2 separate regions of the Homo sapiens genome follow, and region 1 is linked to region 2. Evidence: fine-mapped expression QTL. Tissue or cell type: whole blood. Region 2 holds a variant in brackets; the other region holds the start of a gene. All regions are shown on one strand. Distances are between the middles of the regions.

Region 1 (10,438 bases), 32 kb after region 2:
ACATTATATGATTACTTTATTGTCACCTTTCTCCTGAAGCTCTCTTCTAAAGATAGAGCATTTGGAGGGAGCTCTGTTTTTGGGATCTGGTGAGGCTGTTGGTGCCAGAGGAGCAATTATCCCCTAAATCAGATATAAACTTGGCACTTGAAGAGAACTGAGAGGAACAATGTTATATCTCTGTATCTAGATGGGGTTCACATACTAGCCTCTTCAAAATCTTATGACACAATTTTTAAGTGTCCAAACAAATAGAAAAGTACCATGGTAAAAAGTACCATACACTGTATATTATTGATTGTAATTTTCAGACGCACATTTTCCCAATTTTGACATCTCTGAAACTAGGAACTATCTAACAATCTAGCAATTATAATTGGATTGGGAGTGGCTTGTCTTTTTTAGTGGTACATAAAATAATGGTGCATCTTTCAACTGATGGTGTCTTCCATTCCATTATTTATAAATTTGGATAGACAGAAATATTTCAGGCAGAGGTATAATAAAATAAGGCAGAGGTATATAATAAAGGGACAATCTGATCCCTTAAGTATTTTCTGAGTTTGTCAATAGTCAATTCTTTTGCGATTCATTCAATTAAAAAGTGCCTATTATTTCTAGGTGTTATGGTTAAAGATCCTACCCTCACAGAGCATACAGCAAGCTGGAAAGACAGGCAATTAGATAGTTAATTATAATACCGTGGTGCATTATATAATAGAAGCAAAGGTGCTGGGATACACATGTCCTAAGGTAGGGTCCAATCTACTTCAGGGTATCTCTTGGAAATGACGTTTATTCAGGGATTGAGATCAGTAGCAGTGGGAGTAACTACTTATGCAAAGTCCCCAAGGAGACTTTAGAGTAGCTGGCATAATAAAGGAGCTGAAAGAAGCTCAATAATCTTGAAGATAGAAATATATGCAGTCATTTGCATCTCTTGATACTCTACTGTACTTGCTTTGAGGGCGAATACAATTCTCCAGTCACAGACTGCTCTGAATAGGCAATCTATTCTGACTTTAGCACTGTGGCAACAGTTTCAAAATATCTTTCATCTCAGTTTCTTAACATGAATTTGAGTACACTATTTTGTATTTCACACAACAGAAGAGAAGTGTAGGTAAAGAATAGCATTTTAGTCCCCAACTTTTCTAAATATATTTTAAACATGAGCTACTTTATTCTACTAAAATATGTTAAGATGTGGAAATTCAGCAAGTTCTAAATCTAGTGGGAAGTTTATTGGGTTGGAAGTGGAGGAACATGTTAGAGGAGCATCTATCTACTGAAGTCAGAACATCAGTGATAAGCTGTGGCCCAAGAGCTCATGCTTCAAAATAGCTGGGTAAGTGTTATGACAGGAGGGAAGAGAAATAGTTAAACTAGTATAGCATATATATGTGTCTCATGGTTACTCTCATTGCCTGTTTACTAAACAAACAAAAATCCCGTGAATTCATTGCTGCCTTTACAAACATCACAATGAGTAAGACAATTTTCACCATCTTCAGCAATTCCTGACAATACATTGTCTGCCATTGGGAGTCATTCTTTGTTTTGAATAAGTGGCTGACTTCCTCCCCATATTCAGCCATCTCCCATCTCCTCACTGGATTTCATTTTGAATAGGAAATCTTGCCTGTGAAAAGAAGACCCTTGCTTCTAGGCCAACCAAAATGTTTCTAGGGAAGAGAGACATATAGTTTAATTAGGGCTAATTCTATATTTATATTCTTAATAACGAGAAATAGTAGTCTTACTTGAGTTACACTTAATGCTGTACACCTAAAAATCATGGAAATAAAAGATTGACTTGTATCATTAATTAGGTCTTTATCCAAGTATTTTAGACAACTATGTTTGGATTTCACATTTAGAGGAGTGAGCAAGAGAGAATGAACTTATCTTTAGGCAGCCAATATAGCATATTATTTTAGAGCATTTAATTTGAGGTCAGAGATATGAATTGAGTAGATTTGTCATTAGTTCTTCAACTTTGGACAAATGAAATTAACTTCTTAATACTATATTTTGATTTCCTCATCTCTAAAATATTGATAATAGTTATAAAGTTTTAATTTTTTCTTTTCTTTTTTTCAAGGCTAATCAACAAGCTGAGGGAGTGAAAAAAGAACAAAGAAATCTGTGACTGCTTGTGATCAATTAGTAAACTTAATTTTTTAGATTAAAATGAAATAATACATGCAAAGCCCTTGGCACAGTGCCTTGCACATAATACATTTCGGGGTTAAGTTGTGCTAGCTATTCTGTTATTGATTGTCTTGCCCTTTGTTCTCTGGAAGGTTGGATCTTGCCATTTGGGGATGGCCAATGGGAAGGCTGAGCAAGACATCAGAGGGTGGGAGGAAAGGAGGTATATTTATTTTCCTTACTCCTTCTCTGCTGGGCTTCAATTTTGTCACTAGCTGCATTCCTTTTTATGACCACAACTCCAGTCTAATGGCCACCCTCCCATAACTAGAGTTCATAATCAAACTAACACTGCCACCTCCTCAGGCCTAGGAATGGTCATGGTTTTTCTTCTCACCTTGCTTCAGGTTCTTTTTTCCCTACTGTTGCTTGCGCTAGATGCTCCACCCTCTTTTCTTGTTCCTTTAAGGCCTCTCTAAACTGTCACTTTATGAAACTGTCTTCAGTTAAATCCTTTATATGTGACATCAGTTTATGCTGAGACTTTGACATACATAAAATAACAATCCTTTGGACATAAGGACATCTTTTTGATGAATCATTTTAGTAAACGTTGTAAGGAGCTAATATAAGACAGTCTAAATCAAATAGGAAGTTTATTGGGATGCTGGTGGCTTGTTGTTCTGATGTAAACCCAGTTTGGAAGGCTGTAGAGAGTTTATTTAGATGTCAGAGGGTGGTAGGATGGAAAGGTGGAATTCTTTTCTCGATGTATAAAACAAGGTCATATCTTCAGTGGCAAAATGAACATGAGGATTATGGAGAAAGTAAAGAAAAGTGATTGGCTATAATGGACAGTTTATGCTTATGGGTTGTGGTAGGCAGAATAATGGTCTCCCAAAGATATCCATGACCTAATGCCTGGAACCTGTGAATATGTTATCTTAGATGGTAAAAGGGACTTGGAAGATGTAATTAAATTAAAGATCTTGAGATGAGGAGATTATTCTGGTAGGCACATTGTAATTACAAGGATCCTTAGGAAGGTAGTAGGGTCAGAGTCTGAGAAGGAGATGTGATGATAAAGCAGAGTCATGGGGGAAGATCTGAAGATTCTACCCTGCTCGGTTGAAGATGGAGAAAGGGGCCACAGGCCAAGAATGCAGGTGGTGGCCAGAGGCTGGTGAAAACAGGGAAACTGATTTTCCCCTAGAACCTCCAGAAGAAATGCAGCCCTGGTGACATCTTGATTCTAGCCCAGTGATACTTCTGACCTACAGAACTGTACAATAGTAAATTTATGTTGTTTTAAGCTGGTGATCTATGGCAAGTTGTTACAACAGCAATAAGAAACTGACATAGGAGTAGTAGGAGATAGAGAGAGGGTGTTGGATTAGGGCAGTCAGTTGAGAATTTTGGATTTTATCTTAAAGGCAACAAAGAACCACCAAAGATTTTTGACTAAAAACAGATATAGTAAAAATGATGTATTAGGAGGGTAGACTGGAAGTTGGGTTCAAATTGAAGACAGAAAGATAAGCTCTACAGTAGTGTGCATGGATAAGTATGGTGATGAGTCCCCAGGTTACAAACGGACTCTGAATTGATGAGAAGTTTCCAAATCTGAAAGAGATTGCTAAAGAAGAGCCTACAGAATATAATGACTGATGGGAAAGCAGTCCAATTTCAGATCCCTCATGTGTTGCGAAATGGGCATAAATATAGTGCACACAAGGTTTCTAAATATTTTAAGTCTCTTCCTGGATTCACCAATGTATATTTCACCAACATATATATGAAATTGTAACTTGTTAAACTTCTCTGTTACTTCAAGTTTCACTCTTGTCTTTTTAGAGGATACGCAAACCTCATTTCATCATTTCTACTCTAGAGACTGCTTATTTGGTAGAATGAAAAAGTACAACTTGGATAGTAAACTACTGTATTCAGATTTTGCACAAAAACAACAAAATACAATCTAAAAAAATTTGAGTTGGAGAAGAATCATAGGTCAAATATGTGTAAAAAGTAGTGGCAGTAGCTGGTAAGTTAAACCACTCACCGGCTATAATGCTGTTCAGCAGTTACCACTGTTTGGATTATTGGACATTTCCTGAGTAGTGGGAAATGTTTGGATGAAAAGCCAGTAGCTAATTATTAACTCTCTTTACATTACCTCCCTTCTGAAAAAAGCTCTGCTTGCTGATAATCAACTTCTAAATCATCTTCATAAAACTTAACAATGCTTGGCCATCTAAGGCAGGTCTAAACTAGCTGGCTCTACCCTGTTTTTAGTGGTAAAAATGCTAAATTAACTAGTACTAATAACCATGCCAGCAGTAAAAACACTGAACAATTGAATATCAATGATATGTTAAAGCCAGCTGTTAATTAACCCATTAATAAGGTGATTTTCTTTCACACAGAGATTCTATCGATACACTTTCCCCCCACCTTCTTCCATTTTTCACCATTTCAACTTTCCCCCACCCCAATCAGTAACTGGTAAAAAAGATCTGACCATGAGTTCATTATTGGGAAAATCTTACAAAATGCTATATTTCAAGCTTTTTCTAAATTGGATACAACTTTGCATTTCCACTATGTTTTTAAGTCCCCTCCTTAAAAATACACATTTATGTACAAATAACAATACTATATTTTGCATCTTAAAAGTAGACTGCCCTGTGATATTTACAGAGAAAATGTTCACCATTCCTTTCTACGTTTCAAAATATCCCTCCTCTTGGGTGCTGACATAGAAACATCATTTTGGAACAAGTGGCAGTTTCGTCTTGCATCCCTGCCTTTTCTTGTTCTGCATGGGAAAAAAGCCTAAATAGTAGACAGCAAGAAAATTCAATAATGTCCACTCTGGAACAACCCGAGGGTAGGAATTTTGCATATGTATCAGGCGCCCTATAAGCATCACCCTCCCATCCCATGCCATAAAAAAGGGTGGAGGGGAGGAAATATTCAGCAAAGTCCTAATATACAATGTGTATTGTAAAAACAACTTTAATTTTAAAAGTGAATTCTACCTTCTAAGGTTTTCAGTGCTGCCTCACTCCTACTCCTAGGGTGAAGGACTTTGGAGAGACACGAAAACTAATTCATATCAAAACCAGAACGCGAAACTCCTGCCTGCCCCGTAGCCTGGCCTGAGTACCTGGAATGCCCGAAAGTGGATGGGCGCTCTCTCTTCCTATCTGGCCCATGGCTCTGAGGACCTCCCTCCCCGCTCCAAGCCCCAAGCCCGCGAGCAGGAGATGCTCAGAGAAAAGCGAGTCGCTCACCAGTGAGGAGCCAGCAGCAGGCGACAGCGACCCCTGGGCGGGCGCGGGGCCGAGGGGCCATGGCCGGAGCAGCCTCAGCGCCAGGGGGCCGCGCTGGTTCGCAGGGCAGGACCGGGCGCGGGAGCTGCGCTCTCTGGCTGGGCCACTTATCCCGCTGCCGCGGTTCCCAGTCCTCTGCCCCAGTGGCAGCGGCGCCCAGGAGCGGGAGAGGAGTGATTTCCTGTGTTTTCGTCGAATTCCTCTAAATGCGCTCCACGCTTTTCACATCCCAGACGGATTGCCACATCGCCCGCCCCTTCGCGCTCTTGGTCTCTGAAATCTCACTGGCAGCTTCCCAGGCTCTGTCCGAGACATGGACAAATAAAGCCAGCTTCGCGGGTCCGTGTTTAGGCTAAAGTCCACGGGCTGTAGAAGCAAACCTTAAAGGGACATCTGCCTTTCATTGAGAGGGTGATCTCGTTCTCCGGGCCAAATCCCCTAAGGTGGTAGGAAGGCGGGTAAGGGCTGGACCTTCGGGAGGGTGTTGCCAGCCCAGTGGCTCCGCCTTCACACCCCTTACTTCTCCCGGCCCGGGCAGGGAGGGCGCTTTGACAGTGCCTGGGCGCCCTTAACGGGAGGCAGCTTTCCCGGGTCCATTGCGCAGAGGGATTAGGCCGTCTGTGAAAATGCGAGGATCTGGAATCCCCCCTTCCATCCCCTGCGGACACTTGAAATTCACCGTGAAGTCGTTTTGCACGAAAGGGGGCGTCCCCACCACCCCGACAGGCTCCACTGAGGGCTTTGCTTTCGCTTATGGGGGGGTGGGGGGGTTGCTTCGTTTATGGTAATTCGTGGTTAAAGGGTGGTTGCAGATAAGCTTTTCTTTGAGATAACTAGGATAAGGGGAGAAAAGGAGAAGCAAGACGGAGGAAAAACAGTAAGAGGGAGAGCGAGAAGGGAAGAGAGGAAGAAAAGCAGCCTCCTTGGAAATGGAATGTGTGTGGGCTATTTTGTTTAAGTGAATTAGGATGTTTGTACGCTGGTAATTGAATCTAATAAAGAACTCGGGGCACTACTTTATTTTTTTCTTGCTTGAAACTTTCACGAGTGAAAATGCATTAAGAGTCCAGAAGTGCTTAGGAACTTGCAATGCTTCCCTTTCCTGGTGAGTTGAACAACCTCTCTGAGTCAAAAGCCATATTCACCCTAGCTTCAACCAATGCTGGCTATTTTCAAAATAGCTGTGTCTTAGCGGTTTTGAGAATTTCAAAGACAGAAAGAATAAGTGGATTTGTGTTTAGAGGAATCTGAGGGAAACAGTTCAATTCAATTCTTCAACTCAACAACTAATTGAGCATCTCTAGCAGAACTAGGGCTAGGCAGGACAAGAGTGCCACCCAAAGGAGGGTTCGTTGAGCAGAACGCAACACAGGTAGCACAGAACAGGTAACACGAGGGACAGGAAGGAAGAAGCCCACAGGGTTCACTGGATACATTGCCAGATAGAGGATCACAGCAACTAAAAGCTGGAGAAGACAAAAGTTGAAGAAGTTTAAGGAGCGTCAAAAATGGGGTGGGCAGACCCAAGGAGGTTGAAGGCCATCAGATCTCAGTATGTTGACCCATTAATCAAGAAATTCCTTTTCTATTATGTATCTGAACTGATTCACTATTTAGTAAATACATTAAAAATCTCGTTCTCCCGTTTTTAGTTTTTATAATGTCATTTCTCAGTTCTGTCTTCAAATTTACACAAATGAGTCTCTAGAAAAATTGTATTATGTTGGGTCACAGTTCAATCCCATTGGACTTTACTTAAGTTCCTTTGTTTGTGTTCAATGCTCTCATACCCTGCCAAGGAATTCATTTCCTGTGTATATCTCGTTTCCCTGTTGGTAGTATCAGTTATGTCTTATGCCTCTCAGTATGACTCTCTGTGCTTTGAACAGTAACCAATAGATATTGATTAATTCGTAGACATTTAAAAATCATAGTAAGTACTTTCCCAATGATATTTCTCCAAATTGCTTAGTTTTCAAAAACATATAATAGTGTGTCTATATATACACAATCATGTGTATGTATGTATGTGTACATATATATGTACAGCATATACATACATATGCAAATACATATATGGCATTTTAGCAAATTGCAATATATTTCATTAGAAAAAACAAAAAGAAATTGTAAAATATTGAAATAAAGTAGGGTTAACATATAATATGTTCAAGTTTACAATTACTGGGAAATTTACCTTTCTTCTGGGGGCTAATATATAATTTCAATTTTAATATTTTTATTTCCTCTAGGACTTACAAATTATTGGTGATAACCATCACTAACAGTGATATTGTTACAATTAATTTTCACAAGTTACAAATTTTATGTTTACATGTTTACATATTTATGAATCTTTTATATGTCTAGTCAATACAAATGTAGAGACTGAGAGATAACTATGGTTAGAGAATTAATTTTAGAATCAGTGCTTATTTTCTGAACTTCAATAAACCCAAATACAAATAAATGTCAAGCCGGTTATTTTCTTAACCAATTTTATTCTGACTGACAGAAAGACATGTCATTGAGTAAAGATTTAGAGAAGACAGAAACTTGCCCAGAGTCACAAACTAGTTATTGATATGAGACACTTGATGACAAATGTTTCAGCTCTAGACTTTATACTACATACTTTTCTATTTTAAATGAGACTTGATTTGATCAGATCTCTTTAAGGGTTTGGAAGCATGAGTAGGAGCATGAACCTTATTGTGAACTGCACACGCTTCTTATGAGAATCTAATGCCTGATGATCTGTCACTGTCTCCCATCATCCCCAGATGAAAACGTCTAGTTGCAGGAAAACAGGCTGAGGGCTCCCACTGATTCTACATTATGGTGAGTTTTATAATTACTTCATTATATATTATAACATAATTATAATGGGAATAAAGTGCACAATGAATGTAATGTGTTTGAATCATCTTGAAACCGTTTCCCCTACCCCTGGTCTGTGGAAAAAATGCCTTCTATGAAACCGGTCTCTCTGCCAAAACGGTTGGGGATGGCTGCACTGAAAGATTAGAGACTGAACTGATTAAGAATTTGGAAAGTGGATGTCTATGAAATGAGGCAAGAGTAATTGAGATTATTAACCAATAATCTCAAAAAGAAAAACATATACTTAAAACCAAAGTATTCTTCTTGGAGTTAATCTAATATACTGAGTAAAGTAACTAGAGTAAGTAAGGTTCTGGAGTTACGCTGCTTGGACTCAAGTCCTGGAACCACAATATAGTAGCTGTGTGATTTGGGAAACGTCATCAAGTTTATCTAAGCCTCAGTTTTCTCAAATGTAAAGTGGGAATGAAAATACTGTACTACTTCTGGTCTGAGAATTGCTGTGGGGATTAAATGAACCGAGCCTCTGAGCATTTAGCACAATGCCTGGATTAAAGTAAGTGCTCGGTTAGTATGAATCATTCTTCTCTGTAAATAGAAGAATTGGTATTAAACAGACCATGTAAACAGGGCAGGCTCTGCGTGTGGTAGACCCTGTAGGAAGTGGTGAAATTTGATGGCCATCAGAAGAGGAACTTTAATGTCCGCCTAAAAATATCTCCATCAACTCCTATTATTATTTCTGGAATCCTCGCTTTAAAAATATTTACCTTGGATTAGGGAATTATCTTGAAGATAGTTCTATAAAATGGGTATGCATGAAGACATCAGAACCCATTATAACGTTCACATGAATTTGCTTTTCAAATTGGCTGGCCGTCAGAGGTTTTTTTTTTTTTTTTTTTTTTTTAATTTTTTTACAAGAGAAGAACATTCCGCTAAGAGGTTGGGGGAATAGAAGAGGTTCTAGAACTCCGTGTCTAATGTATGCCAGGGTTCTTTAGCAGTAAGATTATAGGTTCTCAAAGCTACAGGATAAATAAGGTACTCCCACCTGGGTAGTGGGGGTGGTGCTGATTTTACTCAAAAATAAATAATTTAAAAATTGTTGTTTGCTAAAATAACAGATTTTTATAAGAAATATTTTTAAATCATGTTTTCTTTTTAAAAGTCAAATATGAGATTTTAAATACATTTTAAGGTAGCATCAAAGTGTGGTTTTACCCCAACCCCATCCCCTCCACTCTCAGGTGTTAGGGGTAGGTGGAAGTGTACAGAACTGCTTCCGTTTTTACAAAGATTTTATGAAGATTTGGATTTTTAAGTTTTAGTATGTAAGCACTTAGGGGAATATACCCCAAAACAGTGGGGCTAACTCACAAAGCTAACTCATATGGAAAACTTAGTCTAGTTCAATAATTTTTAATTTTCTGGCATATATTGGGCTCCAGGGCTATGTTCTGCAGAGGCAAAAATGGATACAACAGTTGTTATTCCACTGCAAACCTGCTGTTCATTAATTTCTTTCACTTGTAACTAGGAAGAGAAAATAAGTAGTTTTGTGCTCAATTGTAACATTGGCATATTTCATTTTAAGCCTATTAAATTAAACAGTCTAGTGAAATTATCCTAATAGTTGTTGTTGATATACCTTGAGAACCTATGATTGCTTCCTCTCTGACCAAAATAAAGTCACAGTGATATGGAACTTAAACTTCACCATGAGCCAACCATTTGTTTTTTGTTATTACGTAATATTCCTGTGTGTTTTTTCACTTAAAATATAAAATAGGTGTTTCTCCCTCCCTATTTCCTGAACAAGCCTGTGCCAGAAACCTTGTCCAAAGACATTTGGGCAACTGGTACTTAAGAAAAAACAAAAAAACAAAATACTTGACTTCAGAATCCTGGTGAGGAACAGTTCTCAACACTATAGGAAACTTCCTTGGACTTACTGGCAGACTTCAACATGAGTGACACACCAGGGCTGCAGCAGGGGAGGGTGGACCAGGGTGGTGCCCTGGCAGGAATGTTCAATTCGTGGCATTCTATGACTCAGAATAACAACCACTGATGAGCAGTAACATTTTAGCTGCATTGCTGGG
Region 2 (10,438 bases):
AATTTTTGCATTTTCAGTAGAGACGGGGTTTCACCATGTTGACCAGAATGGTCTCGATCTCCTGACCTTGTGATCTGCCTGTGTTGGCCTTCCAAAGTGCTGGGATTACGGGCATGAGCCACTGTGCCCTGCCTATTTTAGACTAATTTCAATACTTTTGTGCCTCAGGCAATAGAGAGGCCCAAGAAAAGGGAGAGAGAGAAGGAAACAGCTGGTCAGTGGAGCTGTCAGAACACACACACTTATCAAAATTTCCATCTTATATAGGCACAGTTCCTGGCACCACTGATCACAAGGCCCCATAACAGATATAATAATAAGGAAAAATTTTGAAATTGCGAGAATTACCAAAATGTGACATAGAGACACAAAATGAGCACTTGCTGTTACTTGTTCAAGTGAAGAGTGGGCCACAAACCTTCAATCTGTGAAAAACGCAGTATCTATGAAGCACAATAAAGTGAAGTGCATTAAAACAAGATGGGCCTATACTGATACATACTATGACATGAATGAATCTTGAAAACATCACACTAAGTGAAAGAAGCCAGACACAAAATACCTTTTTATTGTCTGATTTCATTTATATGAAATATTATTTAAAGCGGCATGTTAATAGGAACAGAAAACAGATCTGTAGTTCCCAGGAGCAGAGGGAAGGGAGGAATAAGAGTAACAGATACAGAATTTCCACTGGATGTAGTAACAAAAGTTCTGAAACAGACAGTGGTTCACAATATTGCACAACCTTGTAAATGTACTTAATGCCACTGAATTACAATTTTAAAGCAGTTAAAATAATACATTTTATTTTATGTATATTTTACTATAATAAAAATAAGAAGCAGCTCAATTATCCACCTTAATCATACAATAATAGGCTTTGTTTAAAAACTAAACTTTTCATTTTGAGGTAATTATAGGTTTACATGCAGTTGTAACAAATAATATATAGAATTCTGAAGTACTATTTATCCAGTTTGCTTTTTAAAGGATCTTCTGTCTTTATTTTTTCTATTTAAATAATGTAATACAAATTTAAAAGTATCTTCTCTTTGGTGGCTAATAGAGGATTGTGTAATTGGGCATTCTGCAGCTTGGGCTTGCTGCCTCTAGCATGGGGTAAAAGTACAATATGTTTTACTTGGTTACTTATCAGCCCATTAAGAGAGAACAATCTGGCCGGGCACAGTGGCTCATGCTTGTAATCCTAGCACTTTGGGAGGCCAAGGCAGGCGGATCACTTTAGGTCAGAAGTTCAAGACCAGCCTGAGCAACATGTGAAACCCCATCTCTACTAAAAATACAAAAATTAGCAGGGCGTGGTGGCACATGCTTTTAATCCTAGCTACTCGGGACCCTGAGGCAGGAGAATCTCTTGAACTCGGGAGGCAGAGGTCACCATAGGCTGGGATCATGCCATTCCGCTCCAGCCTGGGCAACAGAGCAAGATTCCGTCTAAAAAAAAAAAAAAAAAGAAAGAAAAGAGAGAACAATCTTCTCAGCTATTTTATCATTAATGGGAGACAAAAGGAAACAGAAGTAAGGATAGATATTAAAATGTGGATGAATCATGTACATATTCAAATGCATTTTCCATATTTAATTCCTTTGGTAAGTGACTTATAATTATTTGATTTAATGATTACTATATATATATATTAAAGGTCATGAAACAAAGCATAATCAGGGCTGAAGAAAATTAGGTCCCAGATCATTAAGTATGAGAACATAAAACAAATATAGCACTCTTAAAGTAAGGCCCATTTTCTTCAAGCTAGAGCTCTTTAAATATCTGACATACTATCACCAGAATGTGCTAATGATATTCCGTATACTTGTAAAATAAATTGGCAAACGTTGATAATATGTTTAATTTATTTGTAAAGCTACCACAGACATACAAAAGTCAATTCTGTTTTCTAAGCATGTAGAGGAAGTTGAAAAGAAATGCTGAAAGCACTTTCCCCTTCTTTTTTCCTTGTTTTCTCCTAGTTTCCAATTCTTTCTTTTCCTTTGTCTGTATTTTAGCACTCTCTGCACTGCTTTCTCAGTCTCCGTTGGGATATTTAAAAGCCAACCACAGGCTAAACATTGATCAAGTAAATAAACATTTAACTGGTGTGGGTTCTGCCTACAGCAGGATCATGTGACAAGATCTTAGGAGTTAGAGGACCTCCATTTTCCTAAGGCAGGAAAAGGTTGAGATGCCCAAGAGAATAAGATGGACTTATTGGACATAATCATCACCATTTAAAATGATTTGGATAGGTGCCATGGCTCACACCTGCAATCCCAGCACTTTGGGAGACTGAGGTGGGTGGATCACTTAAGGCCAGGAGTTTGAGACCAGCCTGGTCAACAGAGCAAAACCCCATCTCTACTAAAAAATACAAAAATTAGCTGGGCATGGTGGCGCAAGCCTATAATCCCAGCTACTCGGGAGGCTGAGGCAGGAGAATTGCTTGAACCCGGGAGGCGGAGGTTGCAGTGAGCCAATATCGTACCACTGCACTCCAGCCTGGGCAACAGAGCAAAACTCTGTCTAAAAATTAAAATAAAATAAAATGATTAAATACCTCATACAGATCTGGTGCTACCATTTTGGTCATTCCATGAGTATCTCTCTCCGAGGCTTGTCTAAGATTCAGAAGGATGTCAGGAAAGTCGGGGCACCATTGAGAGAACTCACTCACCTTAAAGCTTGTTAGACCTGGTTCCTTGGAGCCCTCTTTTGACCATGCAATACAAACTCGATGTGTCCTTGAGGAATCTCAGAAGGCTATAGCTGGAAAAGTCCCTATTCGACCATCTAATGAGACAGTGTCCTCAAATGATGAGAACACTGATGCCCAAGCAGTTGAAATATTTTGCCTAATATACTGTGGCTAGTTTAAGTGACCAAACCTAGAGCAGAAAACAATTTTCTTGCTCTGATTCAAGTTCCCAGTCCACTATCTCACACTATGAAGCACATAAAAAGCAGTGATGAACCATCTTCATTATGTGTCCCTGGGGTGTAATTACCGATCATACGAAGCAGAAAGATTAGAAGTAATAGGCCTTCTGCAGCTCTTGCAGCTGTGTTTCCACTGGGTGAGACAGTGTCAAGGGTAGAGGCTACAATACGAACTGGCGAGGGAGGAGAGCCAAGTGACAGACTTCCAGTCAGCAACAGGCTTGGGCCACTTGGCCAGGAGCCACCTAAGTGTCCCATATCCCCTATGCAGAGCAGTCCGGATACTCAGCCTCCAGCTCTTCTAGGAAACTAGCAATGCAGATGCCTCTATGAGTTTGAGATTGTCTAGCTCTGCCCAGTCCAAACGGAAGTGTCCCTGAATCAGTGGGAGGAAGAAGAGAGGCAACTGGTTGGATGAGGACTGAGTTTCATTTTAATTATCTTTGTATCCCCAGTGCCCTAAGTAAAATCGAAGCTCAAATATGTTTATTTGAATAGAGTAACTAATTATAGCCAGAATGTTGTCACCAATCTACTGTAGGCAAAACATTTGTCTCCTCTGAGCCTTGATTTCCAAGTCTATCAAGTAGAAATGTTAATAATGATCCTTGTAGTATTGTTCAAGGATTGACATAAAATTCCACATATGAACACCATTTGGAAACTCTAAAGCACTCTAGCATATAAAGGATAAAAGGTCAGGAAACGGCCTCCACATGGCAAATTCTCAAATAGTCCCATTGCCAATTTTGTTGTTGACATTCTTCCATTCATAAAATATATGCAATTTAAGTTGCAAGAAAACAGATATTTCTATTATAATGTGATATATTCATTCCTAAAAGCAATCTTGTGTTTTCTACAAAATCACACATAAAAATCATACAGCTTATGATAAAAACAGAGTTGGGGCAGTCAACTCAAAGTCCATACACCTTTTTAGCTAAAACATAAAGTCGAAACAACTCAAATAAAAATACTAGCATAATTTTAAAGGCATTTAGATTCCTAATAAATTCTATACTAAATAAATGATTACAGTGGAATGAAGTAAGAAAATGTTAAGGCTGAATAGTTGTGGGGACAAGGGCAAAATGAACTAAGTTTGGGGCCAATTATATAAGCCCTTCCAAGAAATCACACACAGCAAAACTAGGCAAAGAGGAAGAATACAAGGAGAATGGGAATTCCTTACAATACTGTATGAGTATATGCTTACTGTGTCCAACTCTTAGTGTATTTGGCATTCAAGTGGTGGCATTGGTAGTATAAACATTAAGGTGCTAGGGAAAACTGAATTATAGTGACTTATGTATTATAGTGACATCATTTTTCCATTTACCAATTCTGTATGAGCAAATTTCCTTATAGCAACATTCATTGGGAGGGAATATTCTTATTTTTTATGAATATCAGTGGGGCCATCTTCACACGGAATGGGGTGAGGAGAGCTGTCTAAAAACATACTTTTTTGACTGACATAGGTTCCTAGACTTCGGAACAGATTTAACAGTTTAGACCACTGGAGATAACTTTGAGAAACATTGACCCAAATTAAGCAGTCTAAAAATGCAAACTAAAGGCCGTCACAGTCATCCTTAATCTTAATGCTATTGAATGGTATCAAACTTTACTGAATCCAAGTCTTCGTATTTGCTGGTATATATAAACGTGCCTTTATCTATTAATCAACCAACATTTATTAAATAGATAAATCTGTGCTAGCTGTTGTCAGAATACATAATTGTTTCATACAATGACTGTAATGGCAGAAACACATGCACATACACACACACACTTAGAAAGTAGGCTATCAATACTGAAGAGTACATGAAACCTATCCATTTAGTGATAGAGATATTAAGGACTAAATAGATGAGAGTTTCATCTTTCCACTGGGCTAAGGGGTTTTAATCAAAACAGACAACCTTAAATTGGGGAAACTAGCAGAATATAGCAAATATCCTCCCAGCATATGCTCTTGTTAAAGCCAATAAAAAAAAACTGAGATAATACTATAAATTTCTTATTCATGTTTACCTGATTGATTTCTGGTCTCGGGAGAGAACTAAATGCTTCAAAAGTTTTTCTGCGGCAGTTAGGGCTCACCAAATATCACCAAATAATTATGTGCTTGTCTGTATGTCCCAGAGTCCCTAGCAGTAGGTGGAAGCCATGTGGGCTGGTTCTCATCAATGAACAAGGATCAGAACTAACAATGTATTACCTCCACCTCCGGCCAAGGGAGTCAAGAGCAAGTGTGCCATTTTCTTTTTCTTTTTTTTTTTTATTATACTTTAAGTTTTAGGGTACATGTGCACAACGTGCAGGTTTGTTACATATGTATACATGTGCCATGTTGGTGTGCTGCACCCATTAACTCGTCATTTAGCATTAGGTGTATCTCCTAATGCTATCCCTCCCCCCTCCCCCCACCCACAACAGGCCCTGATGTGTGATGTTCCCCTTCCTGTGTCCAAGTGTTCTCATTGTTTAATTCCCACCTATGAGTGAGAACATGTGGTGTTTGGTTTTTTGTCCTTGCGATAGTTTGCTGAGAATGATGGTTTCCAGCTTCATCCATGTCCCTACAAAGGACATGAACTCATCATTTTTTATGACTGCATAGTATTCCATGGTGTATATGTGCCACATTAAAGTTCATATGGAACCAAAAATGAGCCTGCATTGCCAAGTCAATCCTAAGCCAAAAG[A/C]ACAAAGCTGGAGGCATCATGCTACCTGACTTCAAATTATACTACAAGGCTACAGTAACCAAAACAGCATGGTACTGGTACCAAAACAGAGATATAGACCAATGGAACAGAACAGAGGCCTCAGAAATAATGCCACATATCTAACCATCTGATCTTTGACAAACCTGAGAAAAACAAGCAATGGGGAAAGGATTCCCTATTTAATAAATGGTGCTGGGAAAACTGGCTAGCCATATGTAGAAAGCTGAAACCGGATCCCTTCCTTACACCTTATACAAAAATTAATTCAAGATGGATTAAAGACTTAAATGTCAGATCTAAAACCATAAAAACCCTAGAAGAAAACCTAGGCAATACCATTCAGGACATAGGCATGGGCAAGGACTTCATGTCTAAAACACCGAAAGCAATGGCAACAAAAGCCAACATTGACAAATGGGATCTAATTAAACTAAAGAACTTCTGCACAGCAAAAGAAACTACCATCAGAGTGAATAGGCAACCTACAGAATGGGAGAAAATATTTGCAATCTACTCATCTGACAAAGGGCTAATATCCAGAATCTATAATGAACACAAACAAATTTACAAGAAAAAAGCAAACAACTCCATCAAAAAGTGGGCAGAGGATATGAACAGACACTTCTCAAAAGAAGACATTTATGCAGCCAAAAGACACATGAAAAAATGCTCATCATCACTGGCCATCAGAGAAATGCAAATCAAAACCACAATGAGATACCATCTGACACCAGTTAGAATGGCGATCATTAAAAAGTCAGGAAACAACAGGTGCTGGAGAGGATGTGGAGAAATAGGAACACTTTTACACTGTTGGTGGGACTGTAAACTAGTTCAACCATTGTGGAAGTCAGTGTGGTGATTCCTCAGGGATCTAGAACTAGAAATACCATTTGACCCCACCATCCCATTACTGGGTATATACCCAAAGGATTATAAATCATGCTGCTATAAAGACACATGCACACGTGTGTTTATTGCGGCACTATTCACAATAGCAAAGACTTGGAAGTGTGCCGTTTTCTATCTACAACTCTCTCCTTTGACTGTAACCATAGAGATGTGTGTTCCCAAGGGCATAGTACAGGAGGGATTGGGGTCATCTAACTCACACAGGAATGAGATACATGAGCAAAATAAACCATTGTGGTATGAAGTCACTGACATTTTAGGGTCTCTTAAGCTAGGTAATAGTGTTTACCTAGTTATTAGTCTTCCATAAAGGTTCTGATCCCTAGATACTCTCAAAATGGAATAGAATTAAAATTTATAAAATTAGAATACCAAAATGGTGAGGAATTAGATACCTTTCTAATGTATGTGTTGGTGCTGGATGCTTTGTCAGGGCACTGATTAAGTTGGCTTGCTCTGTTACTATGACAAAAAAAGAAATTAGCATTCTCTACTGATTTAAATTCTCTAATGGTCTAATCATTTCATTATTTATAATCTCTTCCTGGAGAAAAAGAATCACCCAAAAACCACTTCTAAAAGGCATTGTTTAAGGTGAATGCGGGAAATAGTTACAAAACCACTGAGGGCTAAGCCTAACTAATTCAATCCCTGCAGGAAATTCCTTATAACACAATGGCTCAGATGCTGTCAGGTAAGTGATACTTGAATATACTTCCCAGGAAATTCACAGAATATCCTGTCTTGGCCATTTGTGTAATGGATCTGAATCAAATTTCAGTATTTGTCTATCACAGAAAAACAGTAAACCCTAATGTGCAAATAAGCATATGTTAGAACTCCAAAAAGTAATAGTGGCCAGTTACAATGTGATTTACACACCAGCAACTCAACAGAATATAGTTAGAGAACCATACCATTTTTTTTTCAACTCAGCAAGCCTTGATGCTAAAAGAATAGATGTATGTACTACAGTTGTGTTTATGTAATTGCTGAGTTAATCTAAGCATATACATTCTTTTTCCTCTAGAATAGTTATCTTAATTATGCCCAGTTTGTAAGCATACTCTATATCATGCTCTAGGCCAGGGTTCAACAAACTGTGTCCTACAGACCAAATCCTGCCCACTACCTGCTTATGTAAATAAAGTTTTATGGGAACGCAATCATATCCTATTATTTACTATTGTCTGTGGCCCTGAGACCTGCTTTTGCCATACCATGATAGAGTCAAGTAGTCACTACAGAGCTTGTGTGGCCAGCAAAAGCTAAAAACTTTATTATCTCTGACTCTTCACCAAAAATAGGTTGTCTGCTCATGCTCTAAATTTCACTGAAGCAAACTTTTAAAATATGTATATTATAATTTGCATATGCAAAGATACATATTTATAAATACGTTATATCTTTATAAGTCTGTACTATCTTAGTTTCCTATTCTTAAACTAATCAAAGGCAAGAAATAGGGTAACATTCTGGTAGATGAAATAAATGTTATTCTGACTGCATTATTTTTAATCTTTGGTGCACTAAAGTACAATTGTATAATTTTGCAGACTTCTAGCCTTTCCTTGGAATGATATTTGTCTTCTCAATCCATTTTAGTTTCTTTGGAAGGAAGATAATCTCTACATGGCCTGGGCATAAAAGCTTTGACAGTACCAATTTATTTTTACATTTCCTTAAAGAAGGAGTTTTAACAAAGCTTGTAACCAGATCACTCCTAGGCTACAGAGTTAACATTTATTGAACGTCTATTCTGTGTGCCAATTACTTACAGAAAGATTTCATAATTTTAATCTTTATCCCTCCTTTATAAATGAGGCTCACAATGGCTAGTAATGCTCAAGGTCACAAAATCACTTAGTTGTAGAATCCAGGACCTAGTTGTCTTGAAACCAAGCCTGGGACACTTCCTTCTCTACCTCTGGTATTCAGCCCTTTTGTTATATTAAACTCAACTGACTTTTACAAAAAGAAAGAAAAACAAGTTTCGAAAAGATTAGCATCTTACTATATTTAAGCCAGACTAAATGTTTAATGGAAAAAAATTCCTCAAATATGATTTCTTAGTGGATAGCATTGAAAGCTTTTGAATGTGTCAAGTTTGAATGGTTTTAAACTGATCTAAATTGATTCTAAACTGACAAAGTTTATCACTCCCAGTGCTTCCATCTCTTTTGCTTTTAGGGTGCCAATTCTGTTAAGGCAAAGGAATCCAGCTGCTAGGTGATACCACTTGAAAATATTACTGCAAAGAAAACCCCCACCTGTTGTAGCTAGTCATAATACAGACAGACTTTTATTATTTTCCCTGTGTTTCTGAATAAAAGTGAAAAGGCCTGGAGGGGAATATACTCACTACTCTCCAGAAATAGCGGAGTGTTAGAAAAGAGCTCTGCTATCTTCCTGAGAAGGTTATACCTCAGGAATTCTGGGAGGAGGTGTGCCAGGCAATGGGCCCTGAGACCTGCTCCAACCCTCTGGATATGGCCACATGGTCCTTCGTTGGTAACCAGGACCCCAATCTCTAAGAGAGGTATGGCCAGAATAGCTAATGGTGGACCTATTCCACACTCCTTCAGCCTGTGAGTGAGCTCTTAACTAACAAAATGTCCATTCAGTAGCCCCCAGCCTCCCTATCCCTCCCTAAGAATGAAAATTTCTAGTGTGTTTATGTGGGTTGGGGCAATAGGAAGACTTCATGCCATGGCTGGGAACAATTGTTTTTAGATTCATAAAAATAAACACTAACTTCACGGTTTAAACCTGTGACTGTGAGTGGCTAACATTGAACTATCTCTAAAAGATCGTTAATTTTCATCTTTCTCATAAAGAAATGATCTTTATTTGAAAACAAGAATATTTGTTTTATTTCTGCTGGCATATTGGTTTCCTTTCTGAATTTAAAATATGCTCGATGTGCATGGATATATATTAAGTCCCAAAAAGATTAAGTTTAAATTTAGCATATAAAATAGGTAAAATGTTTGGAGCATTACTCTGGACCAGGCATTATAAAAAGTGTTAATAATCTCAATCAATTAAAAAAACACAATAGGTTGTAACTTAGTTTGCAGGTGAGGAAACTTCAGTAAGTCACCTCAATAATCAGTGTTAGATATTAGACTCAGGTGGTGTAATTCCACAGCCTTTCCCCTTAGCCACTACTTACTACTGTCTCCCTGCTGTATGTTATTCATGTCATCAAGGAGTTTTTGTGACTTAGTTTTTGTTTAGTTATACATTTTAAATTAAGCTACCTTAATTTATTAAGATTATAAACTCAGCTGTAGTTATTTATTACTAATTTTATTTTCTAAGAGAATCTCACATTATCAAATTGCATCACAACCCAACTACTATTACTGTAAGTATGTCTTACAATTAGGCACCTTCTTGAAGTAACATTATTTTAAGACATAAGAATCATCTGGAAAAGATGATTGCTAAGTAGACATTCATTGATATTCAAGGCTATTGTTGAAAGCCTTAGACCAGTGTTTTCCAAACATAGGGAAGGAGATCCCTATTCCATTTTTTGGAATGGAGCCCTTCTCCATTCTTCCAACAGAGGCTCCAGAACTAGAGCCAAGACCAATCCTGGGAAGGAATACATTCACCAGGCTCCTCCCAACATCTACCCAGGCAAAGATCTCTCCTGCCCAAGCCAGTCATGACCAGGGGAGTAGGAAAGTTGAATATCAGGATGTAGGGTTGCTAGATACTCAGTTACATTTGAATTTCAGATAAACAGCAAGTAAATTTTTAGAATAAGTATGTCCCATTCACTATTTTGAATGTTTTATAATAAGTATGTCTCCTCTACTGT

The links. PIP is the estimated chance that this variant, and not a neighbour inherited with it, causes the effect.
Region 1: it holds the start of ITGA1, and the variant in region 2 is fine-mapped to the expression of ITGA1 in whole blood (TOPMed, PIP above 0.99).

What each region holds. Positions count from the first base shown.
Region 1 is chr5:52,783,427-52,793,864 of GRCh38, reverse strand. It overlaps ITGA1 (integrin subunit alpha 1), which reads right to left and starts at 5,949. Exons shown (of 29, transcript NM_181501.2): 1 at 5,451-5,949. The coding sequence starts at 5,511. It overlaps PELO (pelota mRNA surveillance and ribosome rescue factor), which reads right to left and starts at 5,949. Exons shown (of 3, transcript NM_015946.5): 1 at 5,451-5,949. PELO-AS1 (PELO antisense RNA 1) reads left to right here. Exons shown (of 5, transcript NR_186455.1): 2 at 8,273-8,330. RefSeq lists an enhancer at 5,982-6,261.
Region 2 is chr5:52,815,333-52,825,770 of GRCh38, reverse strand. All of the region lies in intron 1 of ITGA1 (integrin subunit alpha 1), which reads right to left. Among named protein-coding and RNA genes, the nearest start is that of PELO-AS1, 20 kb to the right of the region's middle. The variant A/C (reference allele first, on the strand shown) is at 5,674.